Linked DNA regions of Homo sapiens: all the other regions are linked to region 1. Evidence: fine-mapped expression QTL. A gene starts in region 1. Each other region holds a variant in brackets. All regions are shown on one strand. Distances are between the middles of the regions.

The links.
Region 2: its variant is fine-mapped to the expression of LINC00954 in activated naive CD4 T cells (Schmiedel 2018, PIP 0.95).
Region 3: its variant is fine-mapped to the expression of LINC00954 in whole blood (TOPMed, PIP above 0.99).
Region 4: its variant is fine-mapped to the expression of LINC00954 in monocytes (Schmiedel 2018, PIP 0.95).

Annotation. Positions count from the first base shown.
Region 1 is chr2:19,866,016-19,871,403 of GRCh38, reverse strand. It overlaps LINC00954 (long intergenic non-protein coding RNA 954), which reads right to left and starts at 2,550. Exons shown (of 10, transcript NR_033875.1): 1 at 2,452-2,550; 2 at 1,791-1,908; 3 at 858-1,002. RefSeq lists an enhancer at 2,789-2,838.
Region 2 is chr2:19,900,597-19,905,984 of GRCh38, reverse strand. It overlaps TTC32 (tetratricopeptide repeat domain 32), which reads left to right and starts at 4,002. Exons shown (of 3, transcript NM_001008237.3): 1 at 4,002-4,279. The coding sequence starts at 4,131. RefSeq lists enhancers at 3,650-3,889, 3,279-4,159, 4,340-4,439, 4,520-4,579, 4,720-4,909 and 1 more. The variant G/TG (reference allele first, on the strand shown) is at 2,720.
Region 3 is chr2:19,887,170-19,892,557 of GRCh38, reverse strand. No RefSeq gene overlaps it. Among named protein-coding and RNA genes, the nearest start is that of TTC32, 12 kb to the left of the region's middle. The variant T/G (reference allele first, on the strand shown) is at 2,548.
Region 4 is chr2:19,936,837-19,942,224 of GRCh38, reverse strand. WDR35 (WD repeat domain 35) reads left to right here. Exons shown (of 27, transcript NM_020779.4): 17 at 386-466; 18 at 3,824-3,960; 19 at 4,279-4,482. Among named protein-coding and RNA genes, the nearest start is that of TTC32, 38 kb to the right of the region's middle. The variant TG/G (reference allele first, on the strand shown) is at 2,035.

The DNA.
Region 1 (5,388 bases):
TCCTTACCTGCCAACCTAAATCAAGATTTGAAGTTGTATTTTTAATTGACTCATAATAACTGTACATATTTATGGGATACAGTGTGATGTTTACAATGTGTAATGATCCAATCGGGGTAATGCGTATCCATCACCTCAAACCTTTATCATTTCTTTGTGGTAAGAGCATTCAAAATCCTCTTATAAATATACAATATAAATTATAAATATGATAAATATACAATATACTATTGTTAACCATAGTCACCCTACTGTACAATAGAACATTAAAACTTATTCCTCCTAACTGGAATTTTGTACCTTTTAACCTATCTCTCCTACACTTCCCAGCTACCTGGAACCACTATTCTATAGTCTCTACTTCTGAGATCAGCTTTTTCAGATTCCACAAATGAGTGGGGTCACGTGGTATTTGTCTTTCCGTGCCCGGCTTGTTTCACTTAACATAATGACCTCCAGGTTCATCCACGTTGCTGCAAGGGACAGGATTTCATTTTTTAAAAGTGGCTGAATGGTATTCCTGTGTGTGTGTGTGTGTGTGTGTGTGTGTATCTAATCTATTTCACATTTTATCCATTCATCCAACTGAGGGACTGAGAGGGACTTAGGTGGATTCTATATCATTGTGAATAGTGCTGCAATGACCATAGGAGTGCAGAGATCGCTGACATTCTGATTTCCTTTCAACTTAATCAAATCTTGTTTCCCGAAAAGGGTCTATTTCATGGCTGATAAGGCTTAAGTACTAAGGGACTTGGTTCCATGAAAATATCAAGTGTGGCCTCACTTCATAGAACGAAGGAGGTAGTTTCGGCCCCAGGAGACCCAGCATTCTGGCTGGGGTTACCTGTGCTCACCTCCATGTAGTTCCCTTCAGAGAATCTTCCTCGAGGCCCATGTGAAATAGGGACAGGACATGGTATAGTTGTAGGTGGTTTCTTCACCAGCTTCCATGAACCCAGACACCTCGATGTTCACACTGAGGGAAAACCATCTATTATCCTGGAAGAAGGGCAAGAAAGCACCGAAGTCCCAGGGAAGATGAGGCAAGAATCAAATAGGGAGGTTTGGCCCAGTCCCACCTGGCTCAGTGGGACTGAGGTACGGGTCTCTTGTTAGTAGACAGACGGCTGGAGGTGTGCAGGGAAGGGAGCATGATGAAATAGAGCAGGTAGAGATGCACAGAAGAGACTTAGGATTTAGTGATCTGACACTAATCTCACCTCTGTTCTGTTGAAGTGCTCCTGCTAGCTCCCTATACCTTTGAACCCCTAAATCCAGGCATAGCTGGGGCCCCAGTCTCCCCGTCCACCTTGCTGACATCGTAGCCAGGTTAAACCCTGCTATCCCACGAGTCTCCTTCTGATTGCTCTCATCTGCAGTTCTACCCCATGCCTCATCTGAGCGCAAGGTGCCTGCATGCGGCTTCCTCTAAACTCCTACAGCTTTGGGCCTCCTGCCACACTCTGGCAGTTCCCAGCTGTCAGTTACAGCCACCTGGAAATGCTCTTTTTTTTTTTTTTTTTGGTCCACCTTACAAAGGTGATCTATTCATTAGAGGTCAATCCTGGCAAGGCAAAGATGGAACTGTGGTCTCTGTTCTTAGACACAAGAGGACTCTGCAGCTGTGAAGACAGCCTGTGCCAGGCGGAAGCGATCTGCATCCAGGAGGGGATGCTGGATTCCCCAAATGTCCTCAGTGCTGAGGGCAGGGCCAGATTTCTTCCATATGAATCTTGGACACCTGTTTCCTGGGCAATTGAACAAGGGCATCTCAGAAGCTTGCTCACCTGGTTGACCACATGACAGGCCAGTACAGAGGCCCTGAAGGTTTCCCCAGGCGTCTTCAGACAACACGTAGCCACAGCGTGGGGCCACGGGAGGTGCGGCAGCTGGGCATCCAGGGGTCTGCAGTGGAAGGAGTATGGTCACCTGCCAGCCTGGAGGAGCCTGGGGGTCCTCAGAGTCCCTGGCACCAGAATCACTTAAGGCAACGCTGAGGGCTGGTCCCAGGGAAGCAGACCCAGGGCGTCTCATAGCGGGTGGGGACAGGCAGATGGGTGGGAGAACCGATGCTGGGCGGCAGGCTGTGGGGGGCAGCTGCGCGATTCTGTATCCTTGCTGGACCCCAGGCAGGCCAGTCTTTCTGGGTTGGGCGGGCTAGCAGGGAACCTGGGTGGGCTGGGGGTCAGGAGGTTGTTTTGGGGACACCGGGCTGCAAAAACCCATGAGTCCTTCCCCTGTCACCAGTAACTTCCGCGTAGAAGGCTTTGTTGTCTAGAGAGCCTCATCCGGAAGATGCCGGCGGGGCAGCTGCTCTCCACGAAGCCTGTGAAGCCCGGGTCGGTTCGGGTCAGTTAGAGAAGGCGCGGCCCCTCCCTGCTGCCCTGTGGGAACTCCACGTGGGAAACGGGGGGCTTGGCGGGCACTTGCATCCCATCCTTCACTGACCTGGGCGGAGCGAGAGGGTCGCTTGAGCGCCGAGGCCGGGGCCATGGCGACAGGAGCAGAAAGAAGAGCCTAGGCAGGAGAAGCGGGCGGGTTGGGCACGGCGAGGAGGAGCAGGAGGGGGCGGAGAGTGGGACGACCGGGCCACACCTACCCTGCAAGCAAGGGGCCCGCGGCGGGGACTCCACTACTGGGCTGGGGCGGGTCACGCGCTGCCCGGGGCTTTATCCGCGAGGCCTCCCAGGCGCTCCACCAGGTGTGGAAGCCAGGTCAGGTGCGCTCCGCCCGGGTGAGCTGCACTTCACTGCGGTACCCCAGCCTCAAAATTCCCCGTACAGTTCTGGGAGCCCTTCACGGCTATGCCCTAGGTGGACTTCACACTTCTGGGACAAATTAAGAGTGTCCTAGGATTCTTGGATTCAGCTGTTAAAAAGAAAAAATAAAATCTTCGGTTTTTCTTAAAATGTGTTTTAAGCATAAAAAATACATAATACAAATGCACAGTTTAAGGAAGTGATTCTACAGCAATCACATCATGTTCTTGATCACCCACAGCGAAGTATTGCTGGCACCCCTAAACCTCCCCTGCCTCCTCCTCAGTGGTCCCGATTTATTCAACTAGCCTTATCTGTTCTCCCGGTTTTAACATCACTTTCACGGCTGCGGAACTTCTGTGCAGAATTGTTCCCATTCTCTTGAAGGCTTAGGTTGTTTGCACTATTTAGATGTTATAAATAATGCTGAGACAAATATTTGTTCACAAGGATGATTTCCTTAGGATAAATTCTCAGTACAGATGAGGAATTTTCAGCCAATAGCCATCTTTATTTTCAAGGTTCTTGGAATATGTTGCCACAGTTTCCCCCCAAAGAGTTTTGCCAATTAACCATCCATCGGCAAGTCAAATCAATAAGTGCCTACCCTGAGCCAGTCCCAGGGAATAAATGGCAGATCCATGTTTAAGTCTCAGTTCCATCACATCCTTGCCAGCATTTGGTTTTAGTTTTCTGAGATTAAACAAATTTTTTAGTTTGCATCTCTCTGACGTTAGAAAGGCAAAACTCCCACGTGTGTCTGCTTGCTAATTAGAGCATCTTCTAATTGTATGTGTGAACTGTCCATTTACTTCTTGGGATGTTGATGTTGACCTGAGGCACTTGGATGTATTCTTTATGTGGTAGAGATAGTTGCCCTTTGCCATTTTTGTATGTTTTCAGAGCTGAGTGAGACCTGGAATTCACGTGGTCCAAACTCCTTACCATGGGTTGAACCGTGAGCCTCCCTCCGCTCCCCTCCACCCCAATTCTGCCACAAAGATATGTTCATTACCTAACCTTTAGAACCTGTGAATGTGACCTTATTTGGAAACATAGCCTTTGCAGAAGTAATTGGGAGTCTGAGAAGAAGAGTTCATCCTGGATCATCTGGGTGGATCCTAAATCCAATGTAAGTGTTCTTTTAAGAGAAAGGCAGAAGGAGACTTGGGATAGAAGAGTGGACAGCAGTGATGTGAAGACAGAAGCAGAGACTGGAGTTCTGCTGCCGCAAGCCAAGGAACACCTGCATTCACCAGAAGCTGGAAGAGGCCAGGAAAGATTCCTCGAGGCTTTGGAGGCCCTTTCCACAAGTTGGTGTCAGATTTCTGGCCTCCGGAACTGGGAGAGAATAAATTTCTGTCGTTTGAAGTCACCAAGTTTGTGATGCTTTGTTGCAGAGGGCCTAGAACAGGGATACAGCCTCCATTTTGCAGGTGGGAAGGACATGAGGGCCCAGGCTTATTCAGGGTCATTACTAAGTCCAGAGTTGAGATCCTAACCCAGGGTTCTTTGTCTCCTAGGCCATGAGACCAGGTGGAACATTTTCCCCCAGATGCCTCTCTGGTGTGCAACTGAGACTTCCACGGGGAACTCTGTAGCTGTAGGAATGGAGTGGGTGAAGTGAGCTCACACACTGATGAGCTCAGACCGTGAGTGCAAGGACCTAGGCTCTAGTTCTGGCTCTGCCACTTATTAACCTTGTGCTCTCAAATGAGTTATGTGTGGGCCTCCTAACAGTCTGAATAGCATCCTGTTGCTGCAGCTCCATGGTCTTTGCTTAGTGCCCTTGAGTTGTTGAGATGTGCAGACTTGTTTTACTCCATGGATGCTTTACAAGTGTTGCCTCTTTAGGGGTAGTGGCTACATGAGCAGAAATGGCACCATACTTTCATTTCTATTTGGTGGCTACTTCTCTTGATGCTTTAACTGTTACTCATACCCCTAAATCAGCTAGAGGGATTTGGGACACACCGCCCTATAACATGAAGCCTGTAGAAACTGAGTACTTGGACAGGACAAGAAAAGACAGGGATTTCTTTTCTTTTTTGAGACACAGTCTCACTCTGTTGCCAAGGCTGGAGTGCAGTGGCGCAATCTTGGCTCACTGCAGCCTCAGCCTCCCAGGTTCCAGTGATTCTCCTGCCTCAGCCTCCTGAGTAGCTGGGATTACAGGTGGGCACCACCATGCCCGGCTGATTTTTGTATTTATAGTAGAGTCGGGGTTTCACTGTGTTGGCCAGGGTGGTCTTGAACTCCTAATCTCAGGTGATCCACCCACCTCTGCCTCTCAAAGTGCTGGAATTACAGGTGTGAGCCACTGTGCCCGGCCAAGACATGGATTTCTAAGTGCTGTATAGCTGGGTATGGTCTCATTTAAGGATTCTGCAAAAAGATCTAGTGCTAGCTTGTCCACTGATAGACACTAGCATATGCAACTACTGAACACTTGAAGTGTCACCAGTGTTACTGAGGAACTGAATTTCTCATTTGAATTCATTTAAAATAAAAAATACTGGCTGGGCACAGTGGCTCACGCCTACAATCTCAGCATTTTGGAAGGCCCAGGTGGGAGGATCACTTGAGCCCAGGAGTTCAAGACCAACCTGGACAACATCGTGAGACC
Region 2 (5,388 bases), 35 kb before region 1:
GTGCCATTGATGTCATATTCACAAAATCATTGCCAAATTCAGTGTTGTTAAGCTTTTGCCATATGTTTTTTCCTAAGAGTTTGTAATTTTAGTTCTTATATTTAGGTCATGATCTATTTTAATTTTTGTATATGGTGTAAGAGACCAGCTTCATTCTTTTGTAGTGGATATCCAATTTTCCTAGCACCATTTGTTTAAAAAACTGTCTTTATGCCAATAACACACTTGTTTTGGGTAATGCAGCTTTGCAGTAAGTTTTGAAATCAGGAAGTGAGTCCTTAAACTTTGTTCTTTTTCCAAAATTGTTTTGGCTATTTGGGAGTCCTTGTAATTCCATATGAATTTGAGGATGGAGTTTTCTATTTCTGCAGAAACATCATTGGGATTTTGATAAGGATTCCATAGAATCTGAAGATTGATTTATATAATATTAACATCTAAACAATATTAAGTCTTCTAATCCATGTACATGAGATGTCTTTCCATTTATGTCTTCTTCAATTTCTTTTAGCAATGTTTTATAGTTTTAATTGTACACATCTTTTACTTTCTTGATTAATTCCTAAATATTTTTTTCTTTTTGATGTTACTGTAGATGGAATTGTTTTCTTTTCTTTCTTTTTTTTTTTTTTGAGACAGAGTCTTGCTCTGTTGCCCAGGCTGGAGTGCAGTGGTGCAAGGCACAATCTTGGCTCCCTGCAACCTCCACTTCCCAGGTTCAAGTGAGTCTCCTGCCTCACCCCCTGAGTAACTGGGATTACAGGTGCCTGCCACCACACCTGGCTAAATTTTGTATTTTTCGTAGATACAGGGTTTTGCCATGTTGGCCAGGCTGGTCTCGAACTCCTGACCTCAAGTGATCCATCCACCTTGGCCTCCAAAAATGTTGGGATTACAGGTGTGAGCCACTGTGCCTGGCTGGAATTGTTTTCTTAATTTCATTTTTGGATAGCTTCATTGTTAGTGAATAAAAATGCAACTGATTTTTGCATGTTGATTTCATATCCTCCTACCTTGCTGAATTCATTAGTTATAACCATTTTTTAAATGGAATCTTAAGAAGGACTGGTGTTGGTTCTTCCTTAAACATTTAGTAGAATTCATCAGTGAAGCCATCAGGTCCAGGGCTTTTCTTTGTCAAGAGGTTATTTTTAGATTACTGATTGAATCTCCTTACAAGTTACAGGTTGATATGGTTTGTGTGTGTCCTCACCCAAATCTCATCTTGAATTGTAGCTCCCATAATTCCCACATGTTGTGGGAGGGAGCCGGTGGGAGAAAAAACTGAATCATGGGGGCAGTTTCCCCCATACTGTTCTCATGGTAGTGACTAAGTCTCACAAAATCTTATGGTTTTATAAGGGATTTCCCCCTTCACTGTTCTCTCATTCTCTCTTGCCTGCTGCCATGTAAGACGTGCTGTTTGCCTTCTGCCATGATTATAAGGCCTCCCCATCCACGTGGAACTGTGAGTCCATTAAACCTCTTTTTTCTTAAAAACAAAAAAATTACCCAGTCTTGGGTACGTCTTTATTAGCAGTGTGAGAACAGACTAATACACACGTCTATTCATATTTTCTATTTCTTCATGATACAATCTTCGTAGGTTTTTTGTTTCTAGGCATTTGCTCATTTCATGTAGTTACTCCCATTTTTCAGCATACAATTGTTCATAGTACTCTCTTATAATCCTCTTTATTTCTGTAGAATTGATGGTAATGTTCCCATTTTCATTTCTGATTTTAGTAATCTGAGTCTTTTCCTTTTTCGTAGTCAATTTAGCTCAAGTTTTATTAACTTTTTTAATCTTTTTAAGAACCAACTTTTGGTTTTGTTGATTCCATTTTTGTTTTATCTGTGTTTTGATCTTTTATTATTTTCTTCCTCTGCTAGTTTTGTGTTTGCCATTTGTTCTTGATATTTAATGTTAATAAATGTTTTACTTTTTAATAAATCTGTTAATATTCCAACTGTTTTTTAATATAATTCCTTTCCTTTGTAATCCTATGTTTTAAAAACACTTGAAAACATTGAAACGACATAGGCTTCACCACACTTGTAAAGGTGCCATAGCACAAAAAAGGTTAAGAATCTTACTCCTATTTAGAAACCCCCTTCCCAAATCCCCAATTTCCATTACATATCCTGCTATTTTCCTCTTAGATCACTGGTTTTTAGACACATAAATATTCCTGTTATTCCTTGAACAGAACAAAGCAAAACTTCTAGTCAGGTGCGGTGGCTCATGCCTGTAGTCCTAGCACTTTGGGAGGCTGAGGTGGGCAGATGTCTTGAACCCAGGAGTTGGAGATCAGCCTGGACAACATGGGGAAACCCATCACCACAAAAAATACAAAAATTAGCTCACTGCCAACCACTTCCACCCAGAAGGGATTCTTGTGCCTCAGCCTCATGAGTAGCTGGGATTACAGGCACCCGCCACCACGCCCAGCTAATTTTTTGCATTTTTAGTAGAGACGGGGTTTTGCCATGTTGGCCAGGCTGTTATCAAACTCCTGTCCTCAGGTGATCTGCCCGCCTAGGCCTCCCAAAGTGCTGGGATTACAGGCATGAGCCACAGAGCCTGGCCATCTCCACTTTTTCTTATCCCCCAAAAGGATTAACATCCCTGGCTTTATGTAGAATAGTGTACGCTGCCACATCAGTGTTTGAGTCATTCCCCAGAGGAGAGGGGAATCCCCCCTCCATTTTTTTTTTT[G/TG]CAACATCTTGTCTTCCCTTTGCTGTTGCTTCCCCCAACACACTTGGTTTTGTTCTATCCTGTACTTCAGATTTGTTTTTTGTTTTGTTTTTTTCATATTGAAAAGATGACATTGCTCCAAGAGGCAAAAATAAATGGGAACTGAAAAAAAAAAGCTTTTTATCTTATTTATTTAATCTTTTAATTCACCTGGAATGAATATTATGTCAATTGGGAGCTTAAATGCTTAAATGTATTTTTCCCCAAATGGTTAACTAATCCTCCCAATAGCACTCATTTGAATAATCTGTCCTTTCCCCATATATGTTACATGTCTTTTACAAAATACAGCCTATTTGAGGTATGTTTCTGGGCTTTTGTTCTATTGAGCTGTCCATTTGCTTACACCAGAAATGCCAGTTTATTTTTTTGTAGTCTTGCAATCTTTTAATTTCTACTAGTGCTTTTTAATTTAACCTTAATCCACTGTATTTGTATTTTTTTCAGTGGTGGTAAAAGGAAAAAATTAAAAATCTAATGAAAGCAGCCAAAAGCACACAATTTATGTCCTGTTAAGACTTCCGCATGTAAGTATCATGCTCCAAATATATTTTTCATCTTTACTTTTTATGACGGAAAGGGCTCAAGTACTTTGGGAAGCAAAACAGAATCGAGGGACGCCGAGAAGATACACAGCAGGCATGTAGGGTAGCGTGGTTGGCAACTGTTCTTACAAAATTTTAATTTGAATTATACGTAATGTACGTAATAAATTACTATTTGGATTTCCCTTTGGCATAAACAGCCAGGGAATATAACTAACATCAAAGATCCCAGACTCTCGACACAATATACTACTAATCGTAACACAATTCTAGAGGGTCAAAAAAGGTAGAGAAGTTTGGACCGTGGAACAGACCTGGTGGAATGTCGACACAAAGCGTTTCAGGGTAGACAAAGCCTACTCAGAACACCCTAAACGCGGAGTTTTGCTAAGTTGGGACGCTAAAAGGCAAGGGAATGACAGGACGTCCGCAGGCTAATTCGCCATTAAGAAACAGAACCGCGGCTTCTTCCACCTCCAGCGTCATCGGCCCCCAATTCGCTGTAACAAACGGATAGTGTCTCGCAGCATCAGACAACGGACTTGGAAATCAGTTTGCGACCACGCATCTGCGCCTTTTCTAGGAAAAGAGGAAGGCGGGTCCAACACTGGTAACGGCAGAAACATAGTTCACAAGGGCCACTGCAAACGCCCCGCCAGCAGCGGAACCGTTATCTCGCGAGACGACGGATCCCCATAAGGCACAAACCTAGCGCCAAGGTTGGCTGTCAAGGTAGATTCCAGGGTGTGGAAGTGGCTTTGTGGTGCCACCTCTAACCGCTCGGAGGTCAACCCCCATTCTACACCGAAAACTAGGCCTTGGCTGCTATGGAAGGACAGCGGCAAGAAAGCCACGCAACCCTAACACTCGCCCAGGCTCATTTCAACAATGGAGAGTACGCGGAGGCCGAGGCACTGTACTCCGCTTACATTCGCCGGTGCGCTTGCGCGGCCTCCAGCGACGAGAGTCCCGGGAGGTAACTATCGCGAGACCTGGGGCCGCGGCGACCCCGGGTGGAGGCGACGTTGGGGTTGTTTGGGCTCCTATCTTTGCCTCTGGAGCTCACGGTCGGCGCTTGTCATAACCCAGCACTAGGACTGAGCGGGCGGACGTTCGTCTTTCTAGAAAGGCCTAGGCGAGGCCTAGGACGAGGGCGGCGGAGAACGCGGGGAGAAGCCCACCCGTGAGGAGCCAGCTGCCGCGACGGTGCGGAGAGATTTCCGGGAACCAAGCCCTCTGCGCGATCCTCGGGCGCGGGCCGCCGCCTCTCACCCCGCCGTCTCTCCTTCCACGTTCCTCATTCGCACCCAGAGACTTAGGACAGATAGGAATTTTCCACTCGTGATTTTAGCTGGCGGGAAATCCGCGACCTGGGAAGGGAAGGGGTCACGGCTGCGTAGGGCCACAGTACCGCGACTCCCATCTCAGTGTCACGGCGCAGGCTCTTGGTGGTGTTTTTCACTTGTGAAAAACGTTTAAATATGTGGAAGAGAGCATAACGAACGTCTAGGTGTTTATCACTTGGCTTAAGCATTATCAGTTTACCTATTGTATTCATCCATGGATGTTTCAGAAGGAACCACCATGTCATCATCACATAGTTACTTAATATCAAGTCGTCAGTGTTGGAACCATTCTGATCGACTAATAAGGTGTTTTGTTCTTTGGTTCCCTTTTCGCAGTTAGTTCAAGTCAGGATACACATCAAGTCTTTTTAAGTCTCTTCTCCACCTTCCCCTCTTTATTTGTTGAGGAAACCGATTCTTGTGTCCTTTGAATTTCCGTGTTTTGGACTTGCTGACTGAATCTCTTCTGTCGTTTAATGTGGTCATCTGTCTCATATTGCTGTGAATTGGTGGTTAAACCTTGAGGTTTGATCCAATTGAATTCAGATTCAATATCATGGCAAGAATACTTTTTAGGTGGGTGTGTGTACTTTCACCAGGAAGCACATAACGATTCGCTGACTTTCTCTTTGTGATGTGAGCGGCTTCACCTGTTACTGTCTGCTTGCCCAAAGCATCTTTTCGGCTTGTGCCTGGATGTGTAGCATTTGTTTTTACTCCAAGTCTTGCCTCGACTGGG
Region 3 (5,388 bases), 21 kb before region 1:
AGAACGTTAACCAGTTTTGTATTTAACCTAGCAACTTTATTCCCAAATTCTTTCTTCATGGACCATAAGTACTCAGTTATTCTAATGCTCTTTTACCACTCTGGCGGTTCTCTATTAATGAGTTAAACATTTTTCACATTTTCATTCTATATTCTTATAAGAATCGTGCTTAACTTCAAAAAACATTTTGGCCCTACTACTGAAGAAACAACAAAAAACCCTTGGTATGGTTTGGCTGTGTCCCCACCCAAAATCTCATCTTGAATTGTAATCCCCATAATCCCCACATGTCAAGGGAGAGACCAGGTGGAGGTAATTGAATCATGGAGCTGTTTCCCCGATGCTGTTCTCGTGATAGTGAGTGAATTCTCACGAGATCTGATGGTTTTTAAGGGTTTGGCAAGTTCCTCCTTCTGTCATTCTTCCTACTGCCTTGTGAGGAAGGTGCCTTGCTTCCCCTTTTGCCGTGATTGCAAGTTTCCTGTGGCCTTCCCACCCATGCTGAACTGTGAGTCAATTAAACCTGTTTCCTTTATAAATTACCCAGACTGGGGCAGTTCCTTATAGCAGTGTGAAAACAGACTGATACAACCCTTAAGTAGAATTTATTATTACATAGTCACATTATTTCTAGCAGGAATAAGAGCCAAGGGGGACTGAAAAGCTTCAGTTTTTTTTTCTGTTGCTTATTTATTTTTTTTTTTTGAGACAGAGTCTCGCTCTGTTGCCCAGGCTAGAGTGCAGTGGCGTGATCTCAGCTCACTGCAACCTCCACCTCCTGGGTTTCAAGGGATTCTCCTGCCTCAGCCTCCTGAGTAGCTGGGATTACAGGCATGTGCCACCAAGCCCAACTCATTTTTGTATTTTTAGTAGATACCGGGTTTCACCACGTTGGTCAGGCTGGTCTCAAACTCCTGACCTCATGATCTGCCTGCCTCGTCCTTCCAAAGTGCTGGGATTACAGGCGTGAGCTACCGTGCCCAGCCCGCCTATTTCTTTAAACTATTCAACAATTCTTGTTTGGAGTGTGTGGAGGCTTGAGCTCTGGCTGAAGCGAAGTAGAGGGAAGGCCATCACATTCAATTTAAACACATGCAAAAAGTACTCCTTTTAAAAGTGGCAAACCTGCAGAATATAAGGTAAAAAGCAGTTCCTGTCTATCCTTCTAGGCCTTTTTCTTTGTACAAATACATGGGCACAGGTATGCAGATACATGCGCAGAATTATGGTATACATATTATTTGGTAACTTAAATCACTTATTATTTTGAACATTCTTTTGTGTAAGAACTTAGAAGTCTACCTTATTCTGCTTTGACACATAATTTTTAAAGCCGCATGAAAAGTGCTTGCCAATTTCTTGATATACAATTAATACATGGCTATGGTAATAAAAATTAAAACAGTACAGGAGGTATAAATAAAAAGACCCCCCGCCTTTCATATTTTTCTCTACAGCTAACCATTTTTAGCCAGAATAACTAGAAACAAAGGGTTAAAAGGCTCCCTTTCCTATGGCTGCTAGTCACCTCTTGAAAAAATTACTATTAGTTGTGTTCACCACCTGAGTGCCTCTTTTCCCTCTAGGCAATTTTGACTCCTGTGTACCAAGAATACCTTTGAATGTATTCTTTTGGCACCACGTTATTTGAACCTATTTCCACTTTATTGGAAAGCTCTTTTTAAGATCACAGAGTTGATGTTGTGCAAACTTAAAGCATCCCAAACGGAGTTCCTGGTCCTCCCCCAGCACAGCTAATGGCAGCTGTACTGTCCCGCCTCTCATGCCAGACTTGGTCCCAGTGCTCCCCAGCGGCAAACACTGTGGGTTCCTACCTTGAAACAGATCCCGATTCCAGCAATTTTCATCTCATCCGCTACCACCCAAAGCCAAGACATCAGCCCCTCTGTATTGCAAGTATCCTGCTTTGTCAGTTTTACCTCCAAAGTCAGTTTCAACACAGCCACCAGAGTGAAGGTTTGGGAGTGTGCCATGGCTTCTCTCAGTGAGAAGCAGAGTCTTCACAAAGACTCACGTTGAGGAACTTACATGTGCTGTTTTCTCCCTGCCTTACCCCATGGCCTTATCCTGGCCCTTCTCTGACCGCTCTCTTTAAAATAGCAAATCCTCATCATACTCATCTTTTTTCTGTTTACCCAAACCATGTTCTTATTTATTTTGTCTTTCCCACACTGGAAGGCAAGCTCTGAGAGGGCAGGGACTTTTGTCTCTTTTGTTTACTGTTGTGTCCTCAGCACCACGGCCTGGCATGCAGAAGGGCCTTACATGTGTTGAATGGATAAGTGAATTCATTATCATAATCTGCTCAGTAACTTGCTATTTAGAGCTTACAGATTCATCACTGGCTAATAGGTATGGGGTGGATAAGTGTTTGAGCCCTTCTCAGCTGACCTTGAGAATAGGGCCTGATTTATAGTTCAGCATCGATTTTATTTAAAACAGGTCACTATTCTAGTTTAGAGGAAAAAGCCCCTCTAAAAGACAAGGTCAAATTCAGCAGGTAATATAATGTTATAAACTATAAAG[T/G]TACCTGTTAGGAGTTGAATTGGGCCCCCCAAAAAGATATGTTGGAGTTTTAACTACCAGTACCTCAGAATGTGACCTTATTTGGGAATAAAGTTATGACAGATCTAATTAGTTAAGAAGATGCAGGTGGAGTAGGGTGGGTCCTTACAGATACCTTGTGTGACTGATGTCCTTACAAGGAAAAGGAAATTTGGACACAGACACTGGGGAGAACGGCTTGTGAAGACAGAGGTGGAGACTGGAGTGGTTCTGCCACAAGCCAAGGAACACCCAGGGATACCCGAAACTGGAAAAAGCAAGGAAGGGTTTCCAGCTCCCCAGGGGTGAGGTCCATGCCCTAGAGGCTTCAGAGGGAGCATGCCCTTGCCAACACCTTGATTTTGGACTCCCCAGTCTCCAGGACTGTGAGAAAATAAATTTCTGTTGTTATAAGCCACTCAGTTTGTAGTGCCTCGTTACAGCACTGCTGGGAAACCCAATAAATAGTAGTTTCATTTTCAAATGACAGGCCTTTTGCACATGAGCTCGCATGTTTCTGCACCTACACATGCAGCTCTATTGAAGAAAAGGTGAGCCTTTTGTTAGAACAAACCTGAAAACGGAAGACTTCCAAGGTTGGGGGGTGGGTGTGGGAAAGAAGGGGCTATTACTCCTTTATCTGATCATGACCCTCACTGGATCAGGAGAGGAACCCATGACTGAGCACCATATAGAACATGCTGGTTGCCCTGGCTGCCTGCTGAGAAATCCATAACCACCCCCGTGTGGCTTCGAGACATTCAACTCTCGGAGAACTGAGGTTTCTCTGACTTGAGATTGGAAAGGAAAAGTGGGAGTCACTTCATGCTGCCAAACAACAAACCATTGCTAACAAGCCAGGTGAAAAAATAACCCAGTTGGCTGAGCAGGCAGGATTGGGAGCTGTCAGTCTGGGACTCACAGAACAATAATTATTTCCATTATGAAGACTGGCTGCCAGTAGACTTACTGGAACTGCACCAGCTTCTTGCTTGGGGAGGGTGGTGTGGAGGCAGATGGAGCAAGGCGCCTGCATGCAGGGCCCCAAGCCTCGGTGTGTCACTCATCTGTGACAATGGCCAGTGCCCACTCCTCTACCCTTGCTATTCTCAATCCCACCGCCCTGTCTGTGTTCAAATTTCTCTCCCAGAATACAGCCTTTTCATTTATTTAAATCCTGCTCATTCTTCTGGGACCAGCCCAAGTCCCAGTAACTACCATTAAACCTTCCCTGCCAATATCAACCCAAACTCATCTCATTCTCTAACTTCCATCACACTCTGGTCTAGATGGAGCACCCTTGCTACTGAATGGGGACCACAGACCGGCAGCATTGGCATCACCTGGGAGCTTGTTAGAAATGCAGATCCCTAGCCCTGTACCAGACCTGCTGAATCAGAGCTCACACTTTACCCAGGCCCCCAGGCGGTTCATACGCACACTAAAGTATGGGGAGCACTGTCTGTAGTACTGGTTCTCAGCACATGGTCTATGGACCAGCAGCACCTAGGACCATGTTAGAAATGCAAAATATCAGCCCTACCCCAAGCCAAGTGAATCTAGCTCCCTGGGGGTAGGGTCTAGCCATCTGTGTTTTAACAAGGCCCCTGGGGAGTCTGAGGCACACTCAAGTTTAAGAACTACTTCCAGTTCATCTGGCCCAGCATCTAATTCCAGGGTGCTTTTCCATTTCCTGTGTTCCTCTCCCTCTTCAAGATGTGGACCCTGAAGGCAGGAGCCATGTTGGTTGTCTGTCTGGCACTCAGACCAGTTTCAACAGGGTGATTGACGTCCCAGGGCAACTGATCTGTTTTCCTTACCCCTCCCTGCCCTATACAAGCACAAGGGAGTCTGGGGAGAAGGACAGTGGAGGAAAGGGCCGATGGAAGATGACCTTCTTGTTTTCCCGAGTCAAGGGTTTGAGGTTTTTGTGGGAGGTTGGGGTGCATTATGCTGCTTCTCTCAAATTGGAGACCATTGTTACCATGTAATTTTATGTTGTGGCCTGACTTGATCCAGAATTCTGTCTCCAATAGTTTTACGTGGGTTTTCTCCCTGGAAAAAGTTATTACGATTGAGCAAATAAAGCAATGTTGGCTAACTGTTCCCTTTTCTGGATCGACATGTCCTTCATCTGGGTAAGTGGCAGTGGCCAGCTCCTCTGGCTTGCAGGACCAGCAAGGAAGATTTTCAGACGTGACTAATGTATAGGCTCCTTGGACTTCCTACTCATGAACTCTCATAAAATGTGCTTTGTTCCATCATTGTCAATTAACACAGCAGCGAGCAGTGCTGGGCTGGGGAGCAGCCGGGCCTCGCCTTTAGTGCACTTCCTCCTTGGCTGGCTGTGAGCTTTCAGATAGCCAGACATAATTCCTTTTGAGCTGCTTAATGGACACATAATTTTAATCAGTCATAGGACACTTGAGCGGGAAGGAACTGGAGAAATCATCTACTCCTTTATTTTACAGGTAAAGGTTCCGGCTTAAAGGTTATGCAGTTGGTTAACAGAATTATGACCAGATCTAGCCCTTCCGGTTCTCAGTTTAATAATAGTGACTTCCAGTTAGTGAAGCATGCCCCGGTGTACACTTATTTTCATTAATCCTGATGGCAAACCTTAGACCTATCTCAAGATTCAATTTTGTGCCTAGGACCATCCTCCCGGATTGCAGTCCCATGGGCCCAGCCCTGTGATGTAATATGCAAAGGCTCAGAAACCTAATTTGGAGAAGAACGTTATGGGCACTGAAGACGTCCTGCAGTAGACAGGACACCCCAAGGCACTGCTAAGTTGTGGGTGCATGTCTCCAGCTGGAGCTG
Region 4 (5,388 bases), 71 kb before region 1:
CTATATGACTTTTTATTAATTGAGAAAATTGGACTGAATATTACATGCTATTAGGGAATTAACATTAATTATGTAAGGTGTGATCATAGTAATGTGGCCATGTAAGAGAAAATTCTTATGTTTTAAAGATATGTACTGCAGTATTTAGGGATAAAATATCATGATGTCCGTAATTTACTGTATTTACTTTACAATACTTCAGCCAAGAAGTTAAAGGAAGCATATTTACCATAATGCTAATTATTTAGGTTATGGGTATATGGGTGTTAATGACATTCTCTCTTTTGTTTACCTGAAAACTCTGATAATAAAATTTAAAAGCATGATTTGTTAAAAGAGAGGAAATTTTGCATAATGAAACATAACTTTTTTTTTGTCTTTAAAGGAACCCATTCAGACCTCTGGATATATTTGTAATTTTGAGGATTTAGAAATTAAATCTGTTCTTTTGGATGAGATATTAAAGGTAATTCCTAAAAAGTTACATTTCTGTTGCTAGCTTGACAGGGGATTATTTCTGGACCAGGCGGTGTAGTATCCTGGTTAGCAGTGTGGACCCAGGAGTCAGATATATCTCAGGCCCAGCCCTGCTCTCTTATTGTTCAGCCTTTAGGTGGGTGCCACCATCTTTTTGAGCTTCACTTTACTTTCCTGTAAAATGATGATAAAAATGTATAAGTCTCAGTTATTGCCTTTATAAAATACAGATAATAATACTACTTATAGGATTGTTATTATATAAGATAATGTGTGAAAAGCAATTAGCACAATGCTACGGCCAAGTGAGAGCTAAAAAAAATGAGTGCTAATTGTTGTCATTGTTTTTGTAGTAATAACGAGGTACTGAAGAAATATTTAAGAGTTTAGCCTTTTTCTAGTTCTAAGATACTTGAGTAACTTTTTTTTAGAGATCTATCTTTCCATTTTTTCCAGGTTTTGTAAAATAATCCTTTTTTCTCTTTTTAAATTCAAGACATGATTTTGAACCCCTGCATTGGCCTACATTGACCATCCTTTGAGAATTTTTTTTCTCTAAGAATATACTGAGAGAAGTTTTACCTTCATTTTAGCCAAAGCATTAACTTTTTCTATGTAATATATATATAGTTTTTGAATTGAGATAGTAGATTTAAAATTTCCAGAAGTTAGTGGCAATTTGGAACAGGTTTGGGTTTGATATGTAAATCATATTTGGGTTTGATATGTAAATTATGGCTATTTTATTGTGAGCCAGTTTCATTTTCTATATCATAACCACCATGCAGCAATGGGATGGGCCCCCACCCAAAATTTGGTTTGGATGTAAAGATTGATGATACCATAGGGACACCAGGAATGTATCTTCCATAATGAAACTTTTAGGGGAGAGAAGGGCAGGCTTCCCAAGCTGTCAGAAATGGCTGGACAGCACAGGGAAAGGAGACTGGCTTGAGGGTGTTTTTGTTGTTGTTTTGTTGTTTAGTAGTTAGGGAGTGGGTCTGGGGTGAGGCTTTTAATGGATAGGGGCTTATGTGGTTTGAAACTCACTGGTGCCCCAAAGGAAGAAGCATCTGGGCTTTCTCATTAGCTTGCCCCATGTGAGGCAGAGGGGAAGAGGGAGAGGTGAGGTTTAAAAGCTGTCAGCAGCCAACCATCAAAAATGGAGTCTGGGCTGTTATTACCTAGGATTATGTAACCTCCAGATTTGACTATCTGACTCTTCTGTATATGGATAGCACTTTTCTTGTCCTTGTTTAAGGTATATGACTTGTAAAACTAATGAACTTATTTCATTGCCCGTTTAACTTGAATACAGTACCACCAGATAATATTTTTTCCTTTTCCACACGTGTGAAGAAAGATATCTATTGTTTTTTTTTCAGCAGGGTTTCTCTCTGTTGCCCAGGCTGGAGTGCAGTGGTGCCATCATGGCTCACTGTAGCCTCTGCCCCCCAGGCTCAAGTGATCCTCCCATCTCAGCCTCCTGAGTAGCTGGGGTCCCAGGCACAGGCCGCCATGCTTGGCTAATTTTTTGTGTTTTTTTTTTTTTTTTTT[TG/G]TAGAGATGGGGTTTGCCATGTTGGTCAAGGGTGGTCTTGAACTCCTGGGCTCAAGTGAAACTCTCATTTTGCCCTCCCAAAATGTTAGGATTACAGGCGTGAGCCACCATGCCCAGCCAGAAGATGTCTTTCTGCTTGTCTTCTTTCCCAAGAGATTTAGGGAAAGAAGACATTATTTATTTATTTCTTTTTTTTTTATTTTGAATATGTGGTTCTTCCAGGGCCCTTTAAAAAGACAGTCATAAGTGGGTAGAATCAAACTAAGGTGACTGAAATATTTTGTCTGCTTTTATATATTTAATGGTTTGATAAAGAGTGAGCTTCTTGAATCCCTAACATTTAGCAAGGATCTGATACAGAGTTGGTTTTCAGAAAGTGTTGGTTAAATTGATTTTTAAAAATGAATACTTTACTGCTTTTAAACAAATGGCAGAATTATATAGAATTCAAGCAAAACAGAAAAGTACTGAAACAAGTTAAAAAAAAACCCTAAATCCCACAACTCAGATATTTTAGTCACTACCGTTAAACATCAGAACATCATTCCTTACAGCTGCAAGTTATATATGGAAATATGGATTTGATAGATTTAGATAGATGAACAGAAGTAATTTTATAAAAATGACATCATTGTACAATCTACTTTTTTAGTGTTAATTTAATTAGATAACCTGAAAGTGAGTTTAAAGGAATTCTAGACTTTTAGATAATATTTTTCCACTGCAAAGAATACCATTTTCCTGGGTTGAGAAGAAAAATTATGAAAAACCAGGTAGTTATTAGTTTAAATTATATTTTAATTTTTAATAGTATTGTCTTTCTACTCTAAAAGATAACATTCTTACATTTTCTTCTTTTTCTCCTTTTGTAGATATATTATTTTTACATTGTCAAGATTTAGAACATTTAAATTTCGTCTTGTAATCCTAATTTCCAGTTGTTTAGTCTTAATAGTTAAATGAATTCAAAGCTATTAGCCAGGCTTTTTACTACATTTTCTCCTTACGTAAGTTCTTAATTTTGATTAATCTTTTAGTTGGCTGGATTTCATTGTTAGTAGTGTTTTTCAAGAAAGGCTCATAATTTCCGATTGCCTTAAGCTCTAGAATGTGTGAAAATGCCTGTGGTGTTGTTGCTGTAATTGATGATTATATTGAATTTTGTGAAGTTTTTTAGATAAAGAAGGCTCTCAGTGGTAAAATGATTTACCTAAAGTTCATCTATTCATTAATTCAGCAACTATTAATTAACAGCCAATAAGACACAGTTCTTGGCCTCAGGTAGAGGAGTTGAGGAGATGGATAAGTAATTCAGTTGCCAGAAAAGAGTTAGGGGTGCTGTGATTCAGTCAGGATGGTACACCTGTTCAAAATTCTGAAGCAGGAGAGCATTAGGTCAGTTCTGAGATGATGAATATTGAATACCGTAAATAGTACAGCTAGGCATTGTGCTGAATCTTTGAGACATGTTATCTCATTTAAGGTGAAAAACCAATCTGAGCAGAGGGAAACAGGGATGCATAACTGTGAGGGACCCCTTCTGCCATTTTCCTCTGTCCCCTTTTCCTCATAGGCCGCCTGATTGCCTCAGAGGTACTTACTTGTGGGTTTTGGTGTTTTCCAGATAACTCAAAAGACCCAAACGTGAAGATTTCTCTTCCTTATTTTGCTCACAATATGATGCCGTTTTTTTTCTTGTTTTGTTTTGTTCTGGTTTTTAATATAAAAAAGAAACACATACTCTAACGGCAAATATTTGAATTTTTTTGTTTTCATCTTTACTTTTAGGATCCAGAACATCCAAACAAGGATTACCTAATTAACTTTGAGATTCGGTCTCTGCGAGATAGCCGAGCACTGATTGAGAAGGTTGGAATTAAAGATGCATCTCAGTTCATAGAGGACAATCCACACCCCCGACTTTGGTATTTAAAAAAAGCAAACTCTCCCAGGATGTCAGGTGTAGGTTTTTAAAGTCTCAGTTTTGTCCCTCTGCTCCCCTACTATCCTCCTGATGGGAGCAGACTTCCATTCTTGCTCTTCTTTTTAAGATGTAGAAATTCATTTAGATTTGGAAGTCCTCAAAATAAGCAGAAAATTATTTGAAAAATGTTTGCATATGTTACTTTCCACCATGTTTCTCTAGAAATAATAGACATAAATGATAATTGAATTGTGATTCAAGACTAGTTTGTCAGTAATTTGCAATATGCACTTATGTTTTTGTTTCTTTTAAAATAAAGGCGCCTACTGGCTGAAGCAGCTCTTCAGAAACTGGATCTATACACTGCAGAGCAAGCATTTGTGCGCTGCAAAGATTACCAAGGCATTAAGTTTGTGAAGCGCTTGGGCAAACTACTGAGTGAGTCAATGAAACAGGCTGAAGTTGTTGGCTACTTCGGCAGGTTTGAAGAGGCTGAAAGAACGTATCTCGAGATGGACAGAAGGTAAGTTATGAAGGCGCAGGCATCCCTGAGTACTCTATCAGTTCATCATTGTATTTTTTACAAATGGAAACTATAAATACGTTAGGTGTATCATATGGTTCCTTTTAGAAATTAATTTTAAGTTTGGATTACAACCTAGATATTCTACATGCCTCTCATTCATTTGTGTTTCATAGTCTGGAGGCAGTTTTCTTCTCTGTTTTTACATCTAATAATGGCTGACTCTGGGAGGTTTTTTTTTCATTTGATGGGAAAAAATGATAGAACAACAGAGACTGGGATCTTTTATATTTAAGACATAGCTCATTATTCCAGTTCTTTCTTTCTTTGTTTGTTTAGGCCATTATTTAATTTTATGTTGTCAAGAGGCATAAAATAAAAATCAGAAGTCGTTAGGGATCGAGATTAGTTCTTTATATTTCGTTTTTGATTTATATAAAATAATGTATGAACTTCATAAATATTTCTTCTTTTGAATTAAAGAACTGTAAGGCCTGTCTCCCTGGCCAGGAATCAAACCCAGGCAGCTGCTATGAAAGCAGATAATCTTAGCCACTGAACCACAAGGCGGAGAGTCTGTCTGAACTTCATTTCAGCTGTTAAGATTGTATCTCATCTTCATTAATGTTATTTATACTCCCAGGAGATCTCTAATATGACTTAGGCTCTGAAAAGTCATATAAAACCACATGTGTTAACACTGTGTTTTGTTTTGAAATAAACCTGATCACATCTAAGAAATTGCTGAAAAGAAATGATTGTTATTTAAATCATTATTTTGCTAAATAAATTGAAAGTCCAGGAAAGTAAAGGCACAACATTCTTTTCCCTGTTCTGGTATCTTAGACCATTTGGGGTGCTATAACAAGATACCTGAGACTGGATAATTTATAAAGAACAGAAATA